Homo sapiens: one gene and its partners. The protein of the gene in region 5 purifies or fractionates together with the protein of the main gene of each other region. This does not show direct contact. Each region holds a gene or a part of one and is shown on either strand. Other genes may lie near its edges. The genes, in order: RIC3, THADA, CCKBR, ATL3, XPO4 and ZHX1.

What was found.
Region 1: the proteins of XPO4 (region 5) and RIC3 purify together in Homo sapiens (co-immunoprecipitation; one large-scale study listed by IntAct). This does not show direct contact.
Region 2: the proteins of XPO4 (region 5) and THADA purify together in Homo sapiens (affinity purification with mass spectrometry, with the first as the bait; one large-scale study listed by BioGRID). This does not show direct contact.
Region 3: the proteins of XPO4 (region 5) and CCKBR purify together in Homo sapiens (co-immunoprecipitation; one large-scale study listed by IntAct). This does not show direct contact.
Region 4: the proteins of XPO4 (region 5) and ATL3 purify together in Homo sapiens (pull-down; one large-scale study listed by IntAct). This does not show direct contact.
Region 6: the proteins of XPO4 (region 5) and ZHX1 fractionate together in Homo sapiens (co-fractionation; one large-scale study listed by BioGRID). This does not show direct contact.

Annotation. Positions count from the first base shown.
Region 1 is NC_000011.10:8,159,026-8,162,525, forward strand, and holds part of RIC3 (protein RIC-3 isoform a precursor), read right to left. Parts: intron 1-3,500. UniProt on the Homo sapiens protein: Molecular chaperone which facilitates proper subunit assembly and surface trafficking of alpha-7 (CHRNA7) and alpha-8 (CHRNA8) nicotinic acetylcholine receptors.
Region 2 is NC_000002.12:43,230,351-43,233,194, reverse strand, and holds the end of THADA (tRNA (32-2'-O)-methyltransferase regulator THADA), read left to right. Parts: intron 1-312; coding exon 313-482; intron 483-1,851; coding exon 1,852-2,247; 3' UTR 2,248-2,344; downstream 2,345-2,844. UniProt on the Homo sapiens protein: Together with methyltransferase FTSJ1, methylates the 2'-O-ribose of nucleotides at position 32 of the anticodon loop of substrate tRNAs.
Region 3 is NC_000011.10:6,262,838-6,266,337, forward strand, and holds part of CCKBR (gastrin/cholecystokinin type B receptor), read left to right. Parts: intron 1-3,500. UniProt on the Homo sapiens protein: Receptor for gastrin and cholecystokinin. The CCK-B receptors occur throughout the central nervous system where they modulate anxiety, analgesia, arousal, and neuroleptic activity.
Region 4 is NC_000011.10:63,654,377-63,657,876, reverse strand, and holds part of ATL3 (atlastin-3), read left to right. Parts: intron 1-3,500. UniProt on the Homo sapiens protein: Atlastin-3 (ATL3) is a membrane-anchored GTPase that mediates the GTP-dependent fusion of endoplasmic reticulum (ER) membranes, maintaining the continuous ER network. It facilitates the formation of three-way junctions where ER tubules intersect.
Region 5 is NC_000013.11:20,780,747-20,784,246, reverse strand, and holds part of XPO4 (exportin-4), read left to right. Parts: intron 1-327; coding exon 328-525; 3' UTR 526-3,500. UniProt on the Homo sapiens protein: Mediates the nuclear export of proteins (cargos), such as EIF5A, SMAD3 and isoform M2 of PKM (PKM2). In the nucleus binds cooperatively to its cargo and to the GTPase Ran in its active GTP-bound form.
Region 6 is NC_000008.11:123,264,287-123,267,786, forward strand, and holds part of ZHX1 (zinc fingers and homeoboxes protein 1), read right to left. Parts: intron 3,101-3,500; 5' UTR 3,008-3,100; coding exon of another isoform or gene 2,987-3,007; intron 2,460-2,986; exon of another isoform or gene 2,356-2,459; intron 1-2,355. Other genes in the region: ZHX1-C8orf76 (zinc fingers and homeoboxes protein 1), read right to left, coding at 2,987-3,007. UniProt on the Homo sapiens protein: Acts as a transcriptional repressor. Increases DNMT3B-mediated repressive transcriptional activity when DNMT3B is tethered to DNA. May link molecule between DNMT3B and other co-repressor proteins.

The DNA of each region.
Region 1 (3,500 bases), on a different chromosome or scaffold from region 5:
CGGCCACAGAGCCTCCTTTCTAAGTAGGAAAAGAGACAATAAACAAGATAATGATAAATACTAAGGAGAAAAAATAAGACAGGGAGAAGGGGTAGGACCGTGTTGGAAGTTAAGATTTTAGCTGGAATGGCCAGAGAAGGCATCAGGAAATGCAGTTTGAGAGAAAACATGAAGACGAAGGGAAAGGCACATGGATATCCAAAAGAAGAGCATTTCAAACAAGGGAAACAGCAAATGCAAAGGCACTGAAGTGGGAACATGCTTGGCATATTCAAGGAACAGTGAGGAGGAAGCCAGTGTGGCCACAACAAAGTGAGACAGATAGAAAAGTAGAAGCAAATGGGGAAGAGAATTACATAGGGCCTTTTGGGTCATGTATAGACTATCTTTTCATCTAAGCCAGGAAGCCACTGTAGAGTTTTGAGGAGGGGAGAGATGTGAGTTGACTTAAGCTTCAACATAATACTATCTGGCAGCTATATTGAGAATAGACTGAAGTGGGGAAGGAGGAAGGAGGCAAACCAGGGTGACAGAGTAAGATGGAATAGAGCAACCAAATAACCAACTGGTTGAATGACCCTAAACAAAACGTTTCCATGAATACAGTGGTGGGACTCTAAAAGCAGTTTTAAATGACTAAGACATTTAAAAAAATAATTTGACCTATCAAGAAAACATGCTGAGGCTGGGCATGGTGGCTCATGTCTGTAACTCCAGCACTCTGGGAGGCCAAGGCAGGCAGATCATCTGAGGTCAAGGGTTCGATACCAGCCTGGCCAACATGGTGAAACTCCGTCTCTACTAAAAATACAAAAAAAATTAGCCAGGCGTGGTGGTGGATGCCTGTAATCCCAGCTTCTCAGGAGGATGAGGCAGGACAATTGCTTGAACTTGGGAGGCAGAGGTTGCAGTGAACTCAGATCCTGCCACTACACTCCAGCCTGAGAAAAAACAAACAAAAAGAGAAAACATGCTGATCATAATCAAAGGTAAAATTGTAAAAAAAGAAAGAAAAAAAGAAAAATTATAACATGGTGGGAAAAATTTGAACACCAACTAGATATTTAATGACATCAAGGAAGTATTGACTTTTTAGGTGTGACAATGGTATTGTGGCTACATTTTAATAAGAATCTGTTTTTAGAGATGCATACTGAAGCATTTAAGGATGAAAAATGATCCAATGTCTAGGATTTGCTTCAAAATAATCCAGTGAATGGGGGGAAAAGTGGGTGGGGATACCCATGACACAAGACTGACCATGTATTGATGGCTGCTGAAGCAGGATGATATGGATTCATTTTACTACTCTCTCAACTTTTGCTTATGTTTGAAAATGTCTTTAACAAAAAGTTTTTTAAAAATCAAGAATGGCACACAGCTAAGAAATGGTAAGCAGATACATTGAATGAAACATTGAATGCTCTGAAAAAATTTCAAGAGCTAGAATTCTTGGCCAAATTTAAACAAATAAAATGCAACAAGGAAAACTACAAATTCCTACATTTCATTCCGAAACATCAAGTGAACAGTAGAAAATGAACAAAACCTAGATGAGCAGCTCCTATTAAAAAGAAGAAAAAAAGGCTCAGAATTCTAATATACAGCAAAGTCAGCAAGGAAAATGCTAAAAACTAGAGCAATCCCCAGAAAGCATTAAGTATAGAAGAAGAAGAGTGCAGGGAAACAACAGATTGCTCTTTCATGAACTGTCTTAGATATGCTGTTATTTGCAGTTCTAAGAGCCTCTTCTGAGAGGGCTGTGTTCAAACACTTGCACCTAGGTCATACCAGGAACGGATGAGGGAGCTAGGGATGTTAACACAGGAAAGAAGACTGAAGAAAGGGACATAATACTACTTTTCCAATTCCTGGATTAATCATCTTACACCTGTAAACCAAAAAGTATCTGGGACAGGCCTCAATCAATTTAGAAGTTTATTTTGCCAACGTTAAGGACACGCCCAGGAGAGAGGTCTGTGCCTTTCTCCAAAGATGATTTTGAGGGCTTCAATATTTCAAGGGGAAAAGTGAGCTGGAGGGGAAAGAAGGGTATGGTAATCTATATGTTGCAAGAGAAAAGGAGCAGGTAGAGGAATAGTCAATTATGTATTCATCTGGTGCTCAGTAAATCGGCACTTCACGTAAGATACGGTGAACATAGAGTAGCTACCTGTAGAGATATTTAATTTTTTATCTGTAGCTACCTGCTTAGGAACAAAAGGAAAGGCAGTTTCTTGCACGACTCAGCTTTCAGCTTAATTTTTTCCTTTTGGCATAGTGAACTGGGGTCCCAAGTTTTTATTTTCTTTTCACACACCTTTAATCTACTTTTCCTCCATTCCTATTTTGGCAAAGGAAATCAACATCTATCCCTTCACCTAAACCTGAGAATAATCCAGATGTCTCCCTCTCCCTCACTTTCCCATTCTATTTTAAAATGTCTCTTAAAATTATTCTCTTCCCTCCAATCTATCCATTGATAACCTCTCTTGCTCTAATATCCATATTTTCCTTTGGGAACTCCTCTCAACTCCAGAGTGGATTCATCAGTATATTCTTTCTACCCACAGCACCACAAGTTAACTTAATTCAAGCCATTAACGTGAACGGATATGTTTGCTGGAACTTCTGGGAAAGAATCTTGGGAGTGAGGCTGGAAGGTGAGAGTGATGGAGGACTTAAAAGAAAAGAGGCCTGGAGCTGTGCCCAGCAAAGTGCTGTAATCCCAGCACGTTAGGAGGCTGAGGTGGGACAATGACTTGAGGCCAGGAGTTCCAGGCCAGCTCTACACACACACGTATATAAATGAGACACTCCCACTTTCTCCGGGCAATGGAATGTGAGGAGGTAATGTCCGAAACTGTTGCTATAAATGAGACACTCACTTTCTCCGGGCAATGGAATGTGAGGAGGTAATGTCCGAAACTGTTGCTATAAATGAGACACTCACTTTCTCCGGGCAATGGAATGTGAGGAGGTAATGTCCGAAACTGTTGCTATAAATGAGACACTCACTTTCTCCGGGCAATGGAATGTGAGGAGGTAATGTCCGAAACTGTTGCAACCATTGCTACCACCCTGAGAGGGCAGCCAGAGCACAGAACCAACTTGAGAACGAACCCAGAGTGAAAAGGACACAGAAAATAAGAGCTAGAGCCCCAGTGTGACAACTGTGAGTCTCTGGTTCAAACCATACTGCAAGACATTTCTAACACAGGGTCTTTTCATTTACACAAGTCAATAAATTCCCTGTCTTAGTCAAGCTGACTTTTCTGTCACTTGTCACAAGCACCCTAACTGGTGAACCCAATGACAATGACTTGGTGATGCTCATGATGTCTCAACTGGATGACTACAACAATCTTCTCCCTGAAGAAATCCTCACAACGCAGTGTCTACACTGCTGCCAGGGTGTCCTTTCTAAAACCAGGTTAAATGTTTCTCTTCTCCTTACACACTCAATGATGCCTCATCTGCCTTTAGAATAAAACCCAATC
Region 2 (2,844 bases), on a different chromosome or scaffold from region 5:
GATCCTTCTGGTGACACTGGAGGAGCAGAGGGGAGATAACTCTCTAATCCTGCAGATGGAACTGCTTCTGTCCACACTGAGTTAGGGGGCATGGAAACAGTGGGTTCAGGCCTATGACTCATTCTAACAGTATAAATAGCAGGATTCAGAAGGTGATTAATCGTCTCCAGTGAGCCCACCCTACCAGCTTCCCTGCCAGGCTGGTGGCAGCGATTTTACCTGAGGCCTTTATTGTTCCCAGGGTCCTGCAGGCTGCCCTGGGGTCGGCCCTGAGCAGTATATTCATTGCTCACCTTTCTCCTGTCTTTGCAGAGTTTGCCTTCTGCCAGGTGGATGCCTCCATCGCTCTGGCCCTGGCCCTGGCCGTCCTGTGTGATCTGCTCCAGCAGTGGGACCAGTTGGCCCCTGGACTGCCCATCCTGCTGGGATGGCTGTTGGGAGAGAGTGATGACCTCGTGGCCTGTGTGGAGAGCATGCATCAGGTGATCCCGGGGTGTCAGGGGAGTAGGAGGCAGGGTTGGAGTGTCCTAAACCCGCTAGATGCAGCACCTACAGCCTCAGCTGGGCTTTTGCATGCTTAGACACAGAGCAGGAACCACTAGGAAAGTCACCCACTGGGTGCTGCCGAGGACACGGGGACACTCTTAGGCTGACTTCTGGGGTGCTGATGGTCAGCCTCCAGCTTAGCCAGGGGAGAGAACTCGGAAAGAAGCCCCTGGCCGGGCACAGCGGCTCATGCTTGTAATCCCAGCACTTTGGGAGGCCAAGGCAGGCGGATCATGAGGTCAGGAGATCGAGACCATCCTGGCTAACACGGTGAAACCCCGTCTCTACTAAAAATACAAAAAATTAGCCGGGCATGGTGGTGGGTGCCTGTAGTCCCAGCTACTCGGGAGGCTGAGGCAGGAGAATGGCGTGAACCTGGGAGGCGGAGGTTGCAGTGAGCCGAGATTGCACCACTGCACTCCAGCCTGGGCAACAGAGCAAGACTCCATCTCAAAAAAAAAAGAAAAGAAAAGAAAAGAAAAAAAGAAGCCCCTGGATGCGGAGAGTTTTATTATGGAGACTGCTTGTTAGTCAGTATTGGAGTTAGCCTGGGGCTTCCCAAAGTTAGGTCTGAGGGTGAAGCATTTTCAGAGAATTAGGATCTTTGCTGGGAACTTCCTGCTTGAAGAAAACTATTATTAGCCCCCTCCAGGGTGGGTGCAGTCACAGATAGGGAAACTGAGGACAAAGACAAGCAGCAAAAGCATCCTGAGAACTGAAATTGATCGCCACCAGCATCTGACTCAGCTGGCCTTCTTGGCATCCCCAGCAGGCCAAGGGTTCAAAACGCATTGTCCCTCTTTATGAGAAATTTGGAGACATGGTAAGTGTCTGACAAAAGGACCTTGAGAATCACAGTGTTATAGAAACAGGACACAGCCTAGTGTCCTGTGTTTGGAGATTCCTTCCTCTCTGGCCTGCTGCAGAGATGACCTTTCCTCCCTCCTCTCCAATTTCCAGCTGCACCTTAAACTCTAGAGCCCACTCCCTTGTTGAAGTCCCCTTTTCAGCATCCATCCCCCAAAGTATCTTGACTTTGAACCACAAACACATCTTTATCCAAGGTCATGTTAAGTCTGGGGAAAAAATTCCTCTCTGGTGGAGAAATACAGTGAGTGAAAATAGAAGGTGACCTTCAAGGCTGCAAGTGGTGTGTGTACATGGATGTTGACAGGCAAGAGTGCACCCTCTGTCAGGTGGGGGAAGGGAAACCCCTCTTGCATCTGGCAGGGTACTGCTTGGTCTGGACTGGGGCTTGTCACCATTCCCTGTAAGACTGACTTTCGGCTTTTTCATCTGATTTAGGTGGAAGAAGACTACCTGTTTGAAAAAGCAGAAGTCAACTTTTGGGCCGAGACCCTGATCTTTGTGAAATACCTCTGCAAGCACCTCTTCTGTCTCCTCTCAAAGTCCGGCTGGCGTCCCCCAAGCCCTGAGATGCTCTGTCACCTTCAAAGGATGGTGTCAGAGCAGTGCCACCTCCTGTCTCAGTTCTTCAGAGAGCTTCCACCAGCTGCTGAGTTTGTGAAGACAGTGGAGTTCACAAGACTACGCATTCAAGAGGAAAGGACTTTGGCTTGCTTGAGGCTGCTGGCCTTTTTGGAAGGAAAGGAAGGGGAAGACACCCTAGTTCTCAGTGTTTGGGACTCTTATGCAGAATCGAGGCAGTTAACTCTTCCAAGAACAGAAGCGGCATGTTGAAGAAAATCTGGGGGATTGGGATGGGGGTATGTGTGGATTTTTCCTCCACTAAATCTGCAGGAAACATGTTGAACATAAATTCAAAAATTTTATCCCATTCATGCCTCCCCTACTTCTGTGAGTCCAGTCGTCTGTCACTCCTTACAGAGAAACTTTTCTTCAGTTCACTCATTCAGGGCAGCCTATTTTATTGCTGCTACTGTAGGAAGTGAGGCGACTCCGTTGCAGATTTACTCTGTCCCCAGGTGCAGGCCACCTGCAGGCCTGAATGAGCCTTTTTCATCCCCCAGGGCCTCTAATGCCCTGCCATAGCCGCCCTGCATTCTCTGTGAAATGACTACAGAGAGTTGGATTTTAGCACATACACATGATCCCTCCCCTCTCCCCTTTTCTGGCTTTATGTAGGGGCTGGATTAGTTGGCAAACAGCCCATTTGGTCAGATTTGTGAATTTTGTTCCATTTTAGCAAAGCAGAAATATGTTCCAAATGTTGGATCCTGGGAGAATTCAGGATCAACTTTGCACAAATAATTTATTTTTATTGTCTGCATGTGTTAAGTCCTGCAGTGACCTACACATTCCATCCTAATTATTCAA
Region 3 (3,500 bases), on a different chromosome or scaffold from region 5:
AGCTTTTTAAAATGTTTGTTGGTGATTGGGCCGAGAGAGGAAGATTGAAGGTGCAGATAAGAAAGGGGATAGTCAATAGAGAAGATTCCCTGTGAAAGCGGGATGTGACGCAATTCAGAGCACAGGTGCAAAAATTTGCCTCACTTATCTAAATGCTCCTCACACATTTGGATGTTACCCAGCCAGTCAGATGTTACACACAGAGACCCTGTCAGCCACACTCATTCAGATATTATCCCTGCAGATGCATAGGTTACCCAGGTTCACTCCAATGTTACCAATAGGAATTTGGATGTTACCACTTTATTCTCCTTATATAATCCATGCAGACTTGAGTATTACCCATGTTCACTCAGATAGTACCCACAGAAAGACAAATGTTACCACACTCACTTTAATATTGTCCGAAGTCATTTTGGTGTTACCCATCCATCAAACACTACTCACTTTCATTTTATTATTATCCACACACAACCAGATATTACCTATGCTCACTTAAGTAAGCTTTTCCCAGATACTACCCATAAAATTACAAATATTACTCTCACATACTCAGATAATACCCACAAAAGCTTAAATATTACTTACATTCACTCAGGTGCTCAGTTATTTCATTTACTCAGATTAACATCTTTTTTTTTTTTTTTTTTTTGAGGCAGTCTCCCTCTGTTGCCCAGGCTGGGGTGCAGTAGCATGATCATGGCTCATTGCAGTCTTGACCTCCGCAGGCTCAAGTGATCCTCCCACCTCAACCCCCTAAATAGCTGGGACTACAGGCATGTGCCACCACAAGTGGCTAATTTTTTGTATTTTTTGTAGAGATAGGGTTTTTCCATGTTGCCCAGGCTGGTCTCTAAATCCTTGGCTTAAGAGATCTGCCCACCTCAGCCTTCCAAAGTGCTGGGATTACAGATATAAGCCACCATGTCTGGCCCAGATTAACATCTTAATTTAGTTAACATGTTAACATCTAACATCTGTACTCAAATACTACCCATACATACTTGGATATTACTTCTGCTCAGTCAGCAATTTCTATCATTATTTGGATATTCCACTACTCACAAGTAGACCTCTGAATGTAATCTATGCTTCCTGAAGATGTTACCTACAAAATGTTATCTACAGAGAGTTGGATATTAACCCTTGCTCTTTCAAATGTTACTACAGTGACTCAGATATTATCTAAACTTAAATGTAAGCCATATTCAATCGGATATTACCTATAAGCATGTAGATGTTACCATTCTCCAGATATGTCCCACAGAAATAAGCGTGACTTTCACCTACCCATATACTATTTCAAAGATTAAAGTATGCCCAACACTCACTCTGATATTACCTACACACCCTTGCATATTACTTCTGCTCCCTCAGTACCCACTATGTGGATTCCCCCATTCACCCAGCCACTACCCACAGTCAGTTGGATGTGATCCCTGCTTATCATAGAGACAAGGGTATTACTTTGATGTCTGTGTGCATGGGTGAACAGATCAAACCTGCCAGTAGAATGCAGAATTTAAGGCATCAGCAGCTTCAGTGTTCTGTGGAGTTTTTCCTTAGAAAGTCTTGGTTTTCATTTTATGTCACGTTGTCTGGATTTTTGCACTCATACTTCTCTGCCATTATCTAGACAGAACAAATACAGATCTTCTAAACACCAGGAGAAGAACTGAACTGTCCCAATCTTCTGAGTCGCCTGGTCTGATGCCAGTTTTCCTCATCCCCAGGAAGATGATGAGATGATGCTCACGGGTAGACTTATCAAGGCACTTGTGGATGTACCCCAGCAGGTGCTATCTCCCATCCTTCTACCCATGCCTGTTTCCTAGTCACTGAAGCCACTGTCATCACTCATATTCCACCATGCAAACACACATCAATACACACACACACACACACACGCATACAAGTCTAAGTCTGATTTATTTTGTGCATGACTTTTTAAACTAATGGATTATTTTTAGAGCAGTTTTAAGTTTACAAAAATTACAGAGTGCCCATACACACACAACCACACATATACACAGAATTTACCCTATTATTAACAGCTTACATTAGTGTGGTACATGTGTCACAATTTATGAGCCAATATCAATACATTATTCTCTAAATTCTAGAGTTTACATTAGGGTTCACTTTTTGTGTTGTATGGTTCTATAGGTTTTGACAAATGTATAATGGCATGTATCCATCATTACAGTATCACACAGAATAGTTTCACTGCCCTAAAAATCCCCTGTACTTCATCTATTTATCCCTCGCTCTGCCTCTCCAAACTCCTGGCTCTAAAATTGCTTTTAATTAGAATTTTTCACATTTCTGAACTGTTCAACAGCAAAGACGTGTGGAGACAGTGGTGGCTGGAAATAAGATAATAGCTAGGAATGTCCAGTAAAACAGCAGAACACTGCACAGTTGCTGGTCATTTTTACTGGGACTTTGTCTTATAAATTTCAGGAGTCCCCAAGCATATTGCAAACTTTATAAGGGTAATATTTAGCTCCATCTTTATGGTCTATCACAATTAGCCAAGTTCAAGGGCACACACATGGGACATCAGCTGGATGAATGAATGAGAAATTGCTTTTCATGCTTCACAGTACTGTACCAATTTGAGGTGTGGCGAATTGCATCAATAATTAGTTGAAGAAAGACATCCAGGGCAGATGTAAGCAAGATAATGGAACTAGAAAGATTAAAGAGGTGGAGGCTGGGGGTGGGAGGACAATGGATTTGGAGAAGAAACAGTGAGTCCAAGATAAACCACCAGCTCTTTTCTGAGTCCAAGGACCTCTCTGACAGAGGTCTCCCTCCTAAAAGTCCTTTATTCTCCACCATACACACTTACTCCCCTCAAATTTTGTCACCTATAAGCCTTCTGTAATCCTTCCTTACAGAGAGAGGCCCAGCTTCTAAAGGAAATATAGATGGTTTGCATATAAAAAACAAAAGTTATGCATCTGAAATCATAACCTCTCACTGACCCCCACAAGGACCTTCCAACATGTGTCTCCAAAAAGACAGAGGCAAAGAAGAAGAAGAAAGGGCATGCTGGAGCACCTCTGCAGAGATGACGGATGGATGAGGAGGGGGAAAGCAGGTGCACTTCTGTCTTGAAAGACAGAATCATCCAAGATTCATTAACAAGCATGTGTTGACTGCCTCCCCTGTGCTAGGGATGATGAGTGCTAGGGATATACTGGAGAGCGAGATGGACCTTGCCACTGTCCTCAAGAAGCTCCTAGTCTAGTGGGGAAGACAGAGAATTACATACATACTAATACAGTGAAAAATGCCATGGTTGAGTATAGAGAGAGGGAGAAAGAGGCATTTAGATTGAGATTTGATTAAGAAGGAGGCAGTATGGGCCAGGCGTAGTGGCTCAAACCTGTAATCCCAGCACTTTGGGAGGCCAAAGCAGGTGATCACCTGAGGTCGGGAGTTCGAGACCAGCCTTACCAATATGGAGAAACCCATCTCTACTAAAAATACAA
Region 4 (3,500 bases), on a different chromosome or scaffold from region 5:
TCAAAAAAAAAAAAAAAAAGCCAATGGCATTTTTAGTTTCATATTGTGTTTTCCACTGGTATATACCTGTTGATTTGTTTGTGTCTTTTATGAACTGTTATTTTCTGAAATTTTTTTTCAATAAAAGGAAGGAAGATGTGAAAACAACTTTTTATCAAAGTGAATGATTTAAAATTAATACATATTGATTGTTTTTAAGATTCTTAAATAAAATGCATGAATATAGTTTAAAAGGTCAGGTACTACTGTAAGGCTTCTAACAGAAAGCAGCTGTCATGTGTGTTATTCTCCTCTCTACCCAGTTTTCACTTCCCAGAGGCTGATGCTCTTATGTGTTACCACTTCTGTTCTTTACTTCCTTACTCCTGTATGGGTGGCACAGACCTGGCTGTTGTTCTGGGAGTTGAGCAGGGAAATGGCATTGGGGATCTCACTGTTCAGAAGGTGGGCATTCACTATCCCCTAGCTATCAGTAGGGCTTCTTAGCCCCAGTCTCATCTATGCCTTGTAAGCTATGGGCATAGAGCCTCTCCACAGATTTCTTTGTAAGGATCGGGAGGGGTAAGTCATGTGTTTCTTATACAGACTTTCATCCATTACTTCTGTTTTTAGCCCAATCCTATAAGCATGCCTTCACACCTGTTTGTCCTTTTTTTTTTTTTTTTTTTGAGATGTAGTCTCACTCTGTTGCCCAGGCTGGAGTGCAGTGGCACCATCTTGGTCACTACAGTCTCCGCCTCCCAGGTTCAAGCAATTCTCCTGCCTCAGCCTCCTCATTAGCTGGGAGTACAGGTGCACACCACCATGCCTGGATAATTTTTGTATTTTTAGTAGAGACAGGGTTTCACAATGTTGGCCAGGCTGGTCTGGAACTCCTGACCTCGTGATCCGCCTGTCTCAGCCTCCCAAAGTGCTGGGATTACAGGGGTGAGCCACCACACCTGGCCACCTTTGATATTTTGAAGTGCTGGAGTGTTGGTACTGAATTCTTTTAGCTTTCATACATCTGAAAAATCTTTATTTTGCCTTTGTTTTGGAAAATATTTACTCTTAGTGTAGAGTTCTAGGCCAACGTATTTTTCTCAGTACTTCAAAGGTGTTGCCCCTTTGCCTTTTTGCTGACATTGTTTCTTTTTTTTTTTTTTGAGAGGGAGTCTCTCTGTTGCTCAGGCTGGAGTGCAGTGGTGCGATCTCGGCTCACTTCAACCTCTGCCTCCCGGGTTCAAGCAATTCTCCTGTCTCAGCCTTCTGAGTAGCTGGGACTACAGGCGCGCACCACCACGCCTGGCTAATTTTTGTATTTTTAGTAGAGACGGGGTTTCGCCATATTGGTCAGGCTGGTCTTGCACTCCTGACCTCAGGTTATTCACCTGCCTCTGTTTCCCAAAGTGCTGGGATTACAAGCATGAGCCACTGTGCCCAGTCTGCTGACATTGTTTCTGACAAGAAATACACTGTTATTCTTATTTTTGTTCTTTTGTACCTAATCTGTCTTTTTTGTCTGGTTGCTTTTTTCTTTAAATTAAAAAAAATTTTATTTTCGTGGGTACATAGGTATATATATTTATAGGGTATGTCTGGTTGCTTTTAAGATTTTATCACTGTTTTTGAGCAAATTATTATGTGTTTTGATGTAGTTCTTTTTTTTTTTTTGAGACGGAGTCTCACTGTGTCGCCCAGGCTGGAGTGCAGTGGCGTGATCTCGGCTCACTGCAAGCTCCGCCTCCCGGGTTCACGCCATTCTCCTGCCTCAGCCTCCCAAGGAGCTGGGACTACAGGCGCCTACCACCACGCCCGGCTAAGTTTTTGTATTTTTAGTAGAGACGGGGTTTCACTGTGTTAGCCAGGATGGTCTCGATCTCCTGACCTCGTGATCTGCCCGCCTTGGCCTCCCAAAGTGCTGGGATTATAGGCGTGAGCCACTGCGCCAGGCTGATGTAGTTCATGTTATTTGTATGTGGGTTTTGTTGAGCTTCTTGAATCTGCAGATTTATAATGTTTATCAAATTTGGACATTTTAAGGTTATTATTTCTTCAAGTTTTTTTGGTCTGTTACTCCCTTTGGAGACTCCTATTACATGTGCCTCTTGCTGCTTGAAGTTGTTCCACAAGATGTTCATTTAAAATTCTTTGGCCGGCGCGGTGGCGCACGTCTGTAATCTCACACTTTGGGAGGCCGAGGTGGGTGGATCACCTGAAGTCAGGAGTTTGAGACTAGCCTGACCAACATGGTGAAAACCCATCTCTACTAAATACAAAAAATTAGCTGGGTGTGATGGGTCATGCCTGTAATCCCAGCTACTTGGGAGGCTGAGGTGGGAGAATCGCTGGAACCCGGGAGGTGGAGGTTGCAGTGAGCCGAGATCGCACCATTGCACTTCCGCCTGGGCAACAAGAGCTAAACTCCATCTAAAAAAAAAAAAAAAGGCCAGATGCGGTGGCTCACGCCTGTATTCCCAGCACTTTGGGAGGCTGGGGTGGGCGGATCACCTGAGGTCAGGAGTTCGAGACCAGCCTGGCCAACATGGTGATGCCCTGTTGCTACTAAAAATACAAACATTAGCTGGGCGTGGTGGCGCCCACCTGTAATCTCAGCTACTTGGGAGGCAGAGGCAGGAGAATTGCTGGAACCTGGGCGGCGGAGATTGCAGTGGGATTAGGAAGAGTACTCAGTCTTGCCTCAGTAATGAGGAATAACAACACTCTGGTTCCATTTAACAAATCTAAACAGCAAGAACAGAAAAAACCAGAGTTTCCAAATTACTTAACTACATCTCAGAATAAAGCTAGATATTTTATAGGAATGCAAAAATAACCAGCACCCAACAAGGGAAAATCCACAAGTCTACATCCTATCAAAAATTTGCAGACATAAAAGAAGCAGAAAAATATAACCCAAATGAGGAGAAAAATCAATCAAAACTGTCTCAGAACTAACACAGATATTAAAATTAACAGAAAACAACTTTTTTTTTTTTTTTTAGACAGTCTTGCTCAACTAAAAATACAAAAATTAGCCGGGTATGGTGGTGTGCACCTGTAATCCCAGCTACTCAGGAGGCTGAGGCAGGAGAATCGCTTGAACCTGGGAGGTGGAGGTTGTGGTGAGCCGAGGTTGCGCCATTGCACTCCAGCCTGGGTGACGAGCAAAACTCTGTCTCAAAAAAAAAAAAAAAATAGGCCAGACATGGTGGCTTAGGCCTGTAATCCCAGCACTTTGGGAGGCCGAGGTGGGTGGATCATCTGAGGTCAGGAGTTCAAGACGAGTCTGACCAACGTGGTGAAACCCTGTCTCTACTAAAAATACAAAAATTAGCCGGGCATGGTGGCTCATGCCTGTAATCCCAGCTACTCGGGAGGCTGAGGCAGGAGAATCGCTTGGACCTGGGAGGTGGAGGTTGCAGTGAGCCAAGATCGTGCCATTGTACTCCAACCTGGGCAACAGAGTGAAACTCCGTAATCCCAGCACTGTGGGAGGCTGAGGCGGGCGGATCATGAGG
Region 5 (3,500 bases):
AGTTGATTATCACATGGGTCTTGGGGCTAGATTGGTGGACTCTTGCTTGATCTGGGCCATATCACTTCACCTCACTGAGTGTCGAAACCTTCACCTCTGGAATGGGAATAGAAACAGTACCTGTCTCGAAGCATTGTTGTAAATGATAGATGAATTAATCCATGTAAAAGGTTTTCAAACAGTAGTACTTAAATGCTGAATTATTCTAAATGTTAACTCTTAAAAATGTGTCCCTGCCTTTTAGAACCCCACAGTCCAGTAACTGATAAGATCTACTTGTATGATATTCTAAGGAGGATACTTGTGTATACTTTATCTCTTCAATAGGCTGAATATTCTGAACTGGTCGAAACATTACTATCAAGTCAGCAAGACCCAGTTATTTACCAGAGATTAGCAGATGCCTTCAACAAGCTCACTGCAAGCAGCACTCCTCCTACGCTGGATCGGAAGCAGAAGATGGCCTTCTTAAAGAGTTTAGAAGAATTTATGGCAAATGTTGGTGGTCTCCTTTGTGTAAAATAAACAACAGAACTTTATGCTTAATTTAGATCCTTTCTGCAAAGTGCACTGAATTGCTGAAAGTTGACTTGAGTCTTGTCCTATTCCTCAGTTCATTTGGCCATTTTGGATTTTGGAGAGCCTGAAACTTTGATATGTATGTAATACAGTGAAACAGGAGAGGTCAACTTGGCATCAGCTTCTGCTGTTAAGTGTTAGCCACAATCTGTCATATATATGTCTTTTAGATTCTGAATGGTGATTTAAAATTTTCAAAATGAAATTCCATATATGTGCAAACAGATATGGGCACCACGAAATACATATGCAGTGCCTTTTTTCCTTTTAACATAGGTGGCTAGCCAAAGTTTAGAATTTTTGTCATTAAATATGAAATGGATATATGCTAGGCAGTGTTTCTCAAAATCTCCATAGATCGCCTGCATCACTTGAGGAGCTGGTGAAAAGGCAGATTCTTAGGCCCAACTGTAGACCTTCAGAGTCAGAATGTCTGGTTGTTGGGCCCAGGAGTCTTCATGTTAATAAGCTTCTCCCTTTCGTCACCCCAAAAGTTTTGAATCAATGAAAGAGACATTGAAAACTCTTAAGAGGTTTTGTGCTTTCTAGCTTTTCCTCCCTTTGATGATTGGGTTTTATAATTCAGCAGGAAGGGGAAACATCACCAGGGGTTTGTTGGCTTTTTCTTAGCTTGCTTTCTTGCTTGCTTGCTTTCTTGCTTTTCTTGCTTTCTGTCTCTCTCTTTCTTTTCTCTCTCTCTCTCACATCAACCCAGTGCTGCAGGTTTTGTGTAATACAAGTCACTAATCATACTCTGATGCCTGAACTTGAGGAGGAAAATACATGTATATTTTTGTTCCGTAAAAATAACCTTAGGAACTGTAGCCATTTCATTGCCTTAATTTTAAGAGGAAAATACAAAAACAGCTGATTTGTTTTAGTAAGAAACCACGTCTTGATGCTTCAGAGTTGGTTTAGGGTGTTAGCTGCTATGAACCTGTTGCCCCTTTCGATCGTGTATTTATGTAGGTTTATCAGTGAAATGAAAGGCTTGTTTCCGTCTAGTCTAACTTTTTGAGTGTGTTTCTATCCAGCCACATAGCCCATATCTACTCTAAATGGCTTGCTTAAGCAATAATTATTTTAAAGGATGTGAATCACTGATTCACACAGACTATTGCACGTTGGGGCATTAGGGGCAATAATTCTTATCCAGACATGGGAGCCAGTGAATTTAATTTCAGAGATTAAAAATTCACTTTAGATCCTCTAGTTTGATCTCTTAATCAGGATTTTTATACAGCTGCCAGGCTCCCCTAATTCAGTGTGCCAGCTTACAATGTGGAAATGAAAGCTAATTTATACACAGCAGGCATATGAAACTCCACTCATTGCAGTACTTTCACAGCACAGTGACAGGTAGAGGACTCTGGCACAGGTGCACTCATGAAACTCTGCTTCCACCATGTTCCTGACACCTATCTATTAAACCATTCTGCAAATACGGTTTTTCTACCTGATTGCATATAGCATATGTGTCATTACATGTGATGCTGTGCAAAACTTTGTATAATTCTGTGTTATTAACAGTTAACAAAACTGGAGCATCTGAATTACATCCAACCTGTGCATGTGATGTTAGGTAGATGTGAATGCAGGGCCTTGGGCCATAACTTACATTTCTCTCAATTTGATTAGCTTTGAGTCACAATTAAGGGGAAGCAAAAACATCTTGAAAAGACTGCTAGGAAGGAAATTAATATCAGTCATCCAGAAGTACACGTTTCTGTATTTTAAAAAATACTTTGATGCATTTATTTTTAGGTGTTTTTTTTTTCCCCTTAAAAAACTTGAAGTGATATGCAGCAGTAATCTATTTGTTTTGCATTGTTCTTGGTGTTTTGTGTTTCCCAGATCCCTCAAGCTTTCTCAGCTGTTGTGAATTATGTGTATCTGTGTGTGTGCTAAGTACAGTCTCTTTACCAAAGGGCACTGAAACACACAATTGACTGGACAGGTCCACGCGCCATGACAAAACTATAATCAAGTTATTAAAACTAAAGAGGAGTGGGAAAGGAATGCCTTGGTAAGTAAAAAGGCATCTATATTTAATAACTTTTATCCAGATGGCAACATATTTGCAAAATTTGCCCAGATCCTATTACAATACTAAAAATAGAAAATTTCACCTCCATATTCCTGAGGTGTAATTTCATTAGACTAGTTTTAGTTTAAAAAGACCTTCTTCAGATTGGACCAAATAATACTTATAAGATCAGCAGAATGTTGAATATTAGCTCACTGGGGTGGGGAGAAGCCACTACCATTTTTTAGGTGATGGGGATGCCACTGAGTTGCAACGGCTAGACCTTTTCAGGGTGGTTGTGTCCATGTTTGCCTGATTGGATGCTTATTCACTTTGTGTTTTCTTTTGTTTTATTTTGTCCAATTTTGTCTTTAGCTGTGTTTATTAACTTCTCCGGTCTTGTTTTGTTTTAATGCTCTTGGCCCAGTGGGTGTCAAGAACACTGGCTTAATTCAAGTCAGTTGATTTTTTTTCTATTAAAACTGTTGTTAAAATATTTTTTAAAACAAAAACATTATTTGTGCCCTCTTTTATATATGTCAAAGGGACACTGTCAAGTATTTCATTTTTAGATTTTTGTTTTATAAAATTTCTGTTGTTCATATAGTATCCTTTAACCTCTAGTTTTCCATACATCCTTTGTTTGTTTCTCATTTTATTTTCCTTGACCCATTTATTTCCCAAGGCACAATCACTAAAGACTTTGTACTTTCACAGTCTGTTAATGTGGTAGCACCTGTAACTGTGTTCTTGTTCTGTTAAAAGGATTGATTTGCTTTTATAGTCCTTGTGCTGGATGAGTGGCTGCCTCAGTAGCAAAACTACCTGACAGTATTTGACAGTGTCCTTTCCAGCACCATTATTTGGGTCTTTCAGGGTGGCCATCTCTGTTAGA
Region 6 (3,500 bases), on a different chromosome or scaffold from region 5:
GTGTTCTACTACATTTTAAAAAAGATTAAAAATAAGTCCTCAATGTAATACACTATAAGAAGTTAGTGGATTGTTTCAAATTCTATGCTTACCCACTACTAAAAAAAAGTCTAAAATATTTTATAATTAAACAGAGCCACAACTGCACTGAATTTGCAAGCTTCTGGTTTTTCTGGCTGTTTGGACTTCAAATTAAATGATTAACAGATAACAATATGTTGGCCTGGTTAGCCACAAAAGCATGCTATTTGGTAAGATTTTACATGAATAAAAACAAACTTTTTTTTCTTGAGACGGAGTCCCACTCTGTTGCCCAGGCTGGAGTGCACTGGGGCAATCTCGGCTCACTGCAACCGCCGCCTCCCAGGTTCAAGCAATTCTCTGCCTCAGCCTCCCAAGTAGTTGGGATTACAGGCGCCCGCCACCACGCCTGGCTAATTTTTGTATTTTTTTTAGTAGAGACGGGGTTTCACCATCTTGTCCAGGCTGGTCTTGAACTCCTGACATCATAATCCACCCGCCTCGGCCTCCCAAAGTGCTGGGATTACAGGCATGACCCACTGTGCCTGGCCACAAACTTTGTTTTTTACAACAATTCTGGGTCAAATAAGAGCATTTAGGGCTGAGTGAGGTGGCTCACGCATGTAATCCCAGCACTTTGGGAGGCCGAGGCGGGTGGATCACCTGAGGTCAGGAGTTTGAGACCAGCCTGGCCAACATGGTGAAACCCTGTCTCTACTAAAAATACAAAAATTAGCCCGGCGTCGTGGCGTGCACTTATAATTCCAGCTACTCGGGAGGTTGAGGCAGGAGAATCGCTTGAACCTGGGAGAAGAAGGTTGCAGTAAGCCGAGATTGCGCCATTGCACTCCAGCCTGGATGATAAGAGCACAACTCTGTCTCAAAAAAAAAAAAAAAAGAGCATTTAGAAGATACTATAGTTTTTAGGGATCATGTTAATTTTGATGTAGCATCAAAAATAAAACTGTTCTTAGGTAGCAAAAATATACACACTGAGAATCCCTTGGAATCTGCATTTGTATATATACCGAGAATGTTTGGGACTCTGTATTCTATTTAGTTTCACTTCTCTCTGAGTCAAGAGTTCTGTTTAGCCAGCTGAAAATACTTTAACACGTTTGTATTCAACTAGAAGTTACAAATCCACAAAAATCACGGAATGCCTAAACAGTACAAACAAAGAATTAGGTCATATTAAAACAAAAGGTATCCACCGTGTTAAAAAAAATAAAGGTGATTTTATACAATTAAGGTATTTTCAAAGTTAAAATGTAAAAATAAAAATAAAATGTTAAAACATTTAGAAACATCAAGTTCTTAAAAAATTAAATTAGGAATTTGACAACACAAATTTACATCCACAGCAAATGTTTTTAAAGATTGCTGGTAACCTACAATCATGACCTGAGAGATAAGTCTCAAGAAAACTGTAAAAAATAGTCTCAAGACAATAGAAAATCAAGTATTAAAGTGAATATACAAACAGGAATAAAAATAATAAAAGTGAAAGCATCTAAGAAATTGTGGTCAAAGATAATCAAATGTCAGAGGATACCTTTGCTAATGCTAATTAAGGCTGAAAGGTAAGAAACCCTATCCTCTCTATCTGTTTTTTTCCATCTGAGAAAGCAGACCTTAATGACACTAAAGATTAAAAGAAGAATCCAAATCGGACAGATTTTTTTCTGGCAAGCTCTGACCACAGATTTGCGGGAGTGAAATGTCTTTTTGAAAGGTCTCTCCCTAGGACACTAACATCCTAGTTTTCTCCCCACAGCTGGCAGGTAGGTAGGTAAGTACGTAATACATTGAAAGTGATATATAAACTAGCAGTATCATGAAATCTCTTATCTTGTGAAGAGTTTGTGAATGTGATCGAAAAGTCATTTTCTACTGAAAACAATTTTTCCCTACTTTTCTCAAGAAGGTGTGTTAAGTCTTTTACAGCCAGTCTAACACAAGAATGCTATTCTCAGTTCCAAGTGAGATTACCTTTGAAGACTGAAAAACCATTCATCTGGTCATTATCTTCCCTATTTATAATGGTAAGGTAACTGTTACCCACTTCACTGAGGATATAATGATTTGATTTTTCAAAATACTTTGAAAGATAATAGTAATCAGTATTGGTAATATCAACTTATAAGAACTCTGTTATCCATTTTTTAAAAATGAAAACTGCCACATTAATGTTTATCAAATCTTTCCTAGTATTTTCTGGAATCATCTAAAATAACAATAGGACAAATGCTTCTTATAAAAGCCAATTAATTAATCAGATAAAATATAAAAACAATTATGTACAAATACATTCAAATATATATATATTTTTTACGTCACACAGGTAATGTGCCAGTGTCATAACAAGGTTTGAGAAAGGCACATTTCACACATAAGCATGAAAACCCAATCATCACACTTAAGAACTACAAAAGGATCAATATTCAAATATTTAAGTTTTGGTATGGTTAATATAAGTAAGAGTATTTAATTAATATCCTGACTCTTATAATTAACTATTATTAGTAGCCTACGTTTTGAAAATACAGTTTCAGAATTTGTTCTTGTACATCCTGAAGCATTTTTCTGGATATAGGCAAAAGCATAGCAAAATTTCTAGATCAATTTCCCCATACCAAAGGTACATTTTGTCTTGTTTACCTCTGTTATCACAGCACTTGGTATAGTGCCTGACACAGCAGATTTTATCAAATACTAATTTTAAAATCAATTATAAATATACAAGATTTATTATGAAGTATGATGCCGTCTCCTTTTAAATTAAAGCAGTCCTATACTTATAGCTCTTAAAATTTGAAAGTATATTAAAAAAAAGTGTTAAGCATATGTCTGCTGCTTTTTAAGGAAAGCTTTTAAAAACTTTAGACAAATATAGTATCATGGGATCTAAAGTGAGTACATTCAGTATCTGAGTTTTACCATACCAAAACAATGAAACACATACTTGCCACAGCTTCCTTAGCATTCTGTTCTTTGAAATGGAAGGGTATCCCTTCTAGTTAGATGTTTAGCTCAGGCCATCATTACCAACAGGTCCAAAGCAGCAGTCTGTCTTCTCCTACAAAAAAGTCATATTTTATTATTCTAGATATAATTTAGCCTTAGTCAGGAAATTTTTACAATTTAATGCCTTAGCTTTTAATAAATAAATGTAATTTTGAAAAAAAAAGTTTATTCCCTCATCAAAACTTTAAAAGAACCATTTAAATACCAATCCTAATATTGGTAGTAAACACAAAAACTACACATTAAAAAAACTCTATTTATATCATATAGAACAACTAAATAACTATTAGACCATTTTGAATAAAATTTCAAAACGTGAATATATGCCGTCTCTAGTGTGAAAATTGAGATGCAGAAATTGGGAGTTCTTTAAAATGAGTATACCGGCCGGGCGCGGTGGCTCACACCTGTAATCCCAGCACTTCGGGAGGCCAAGGCCGGCGGATCACCTG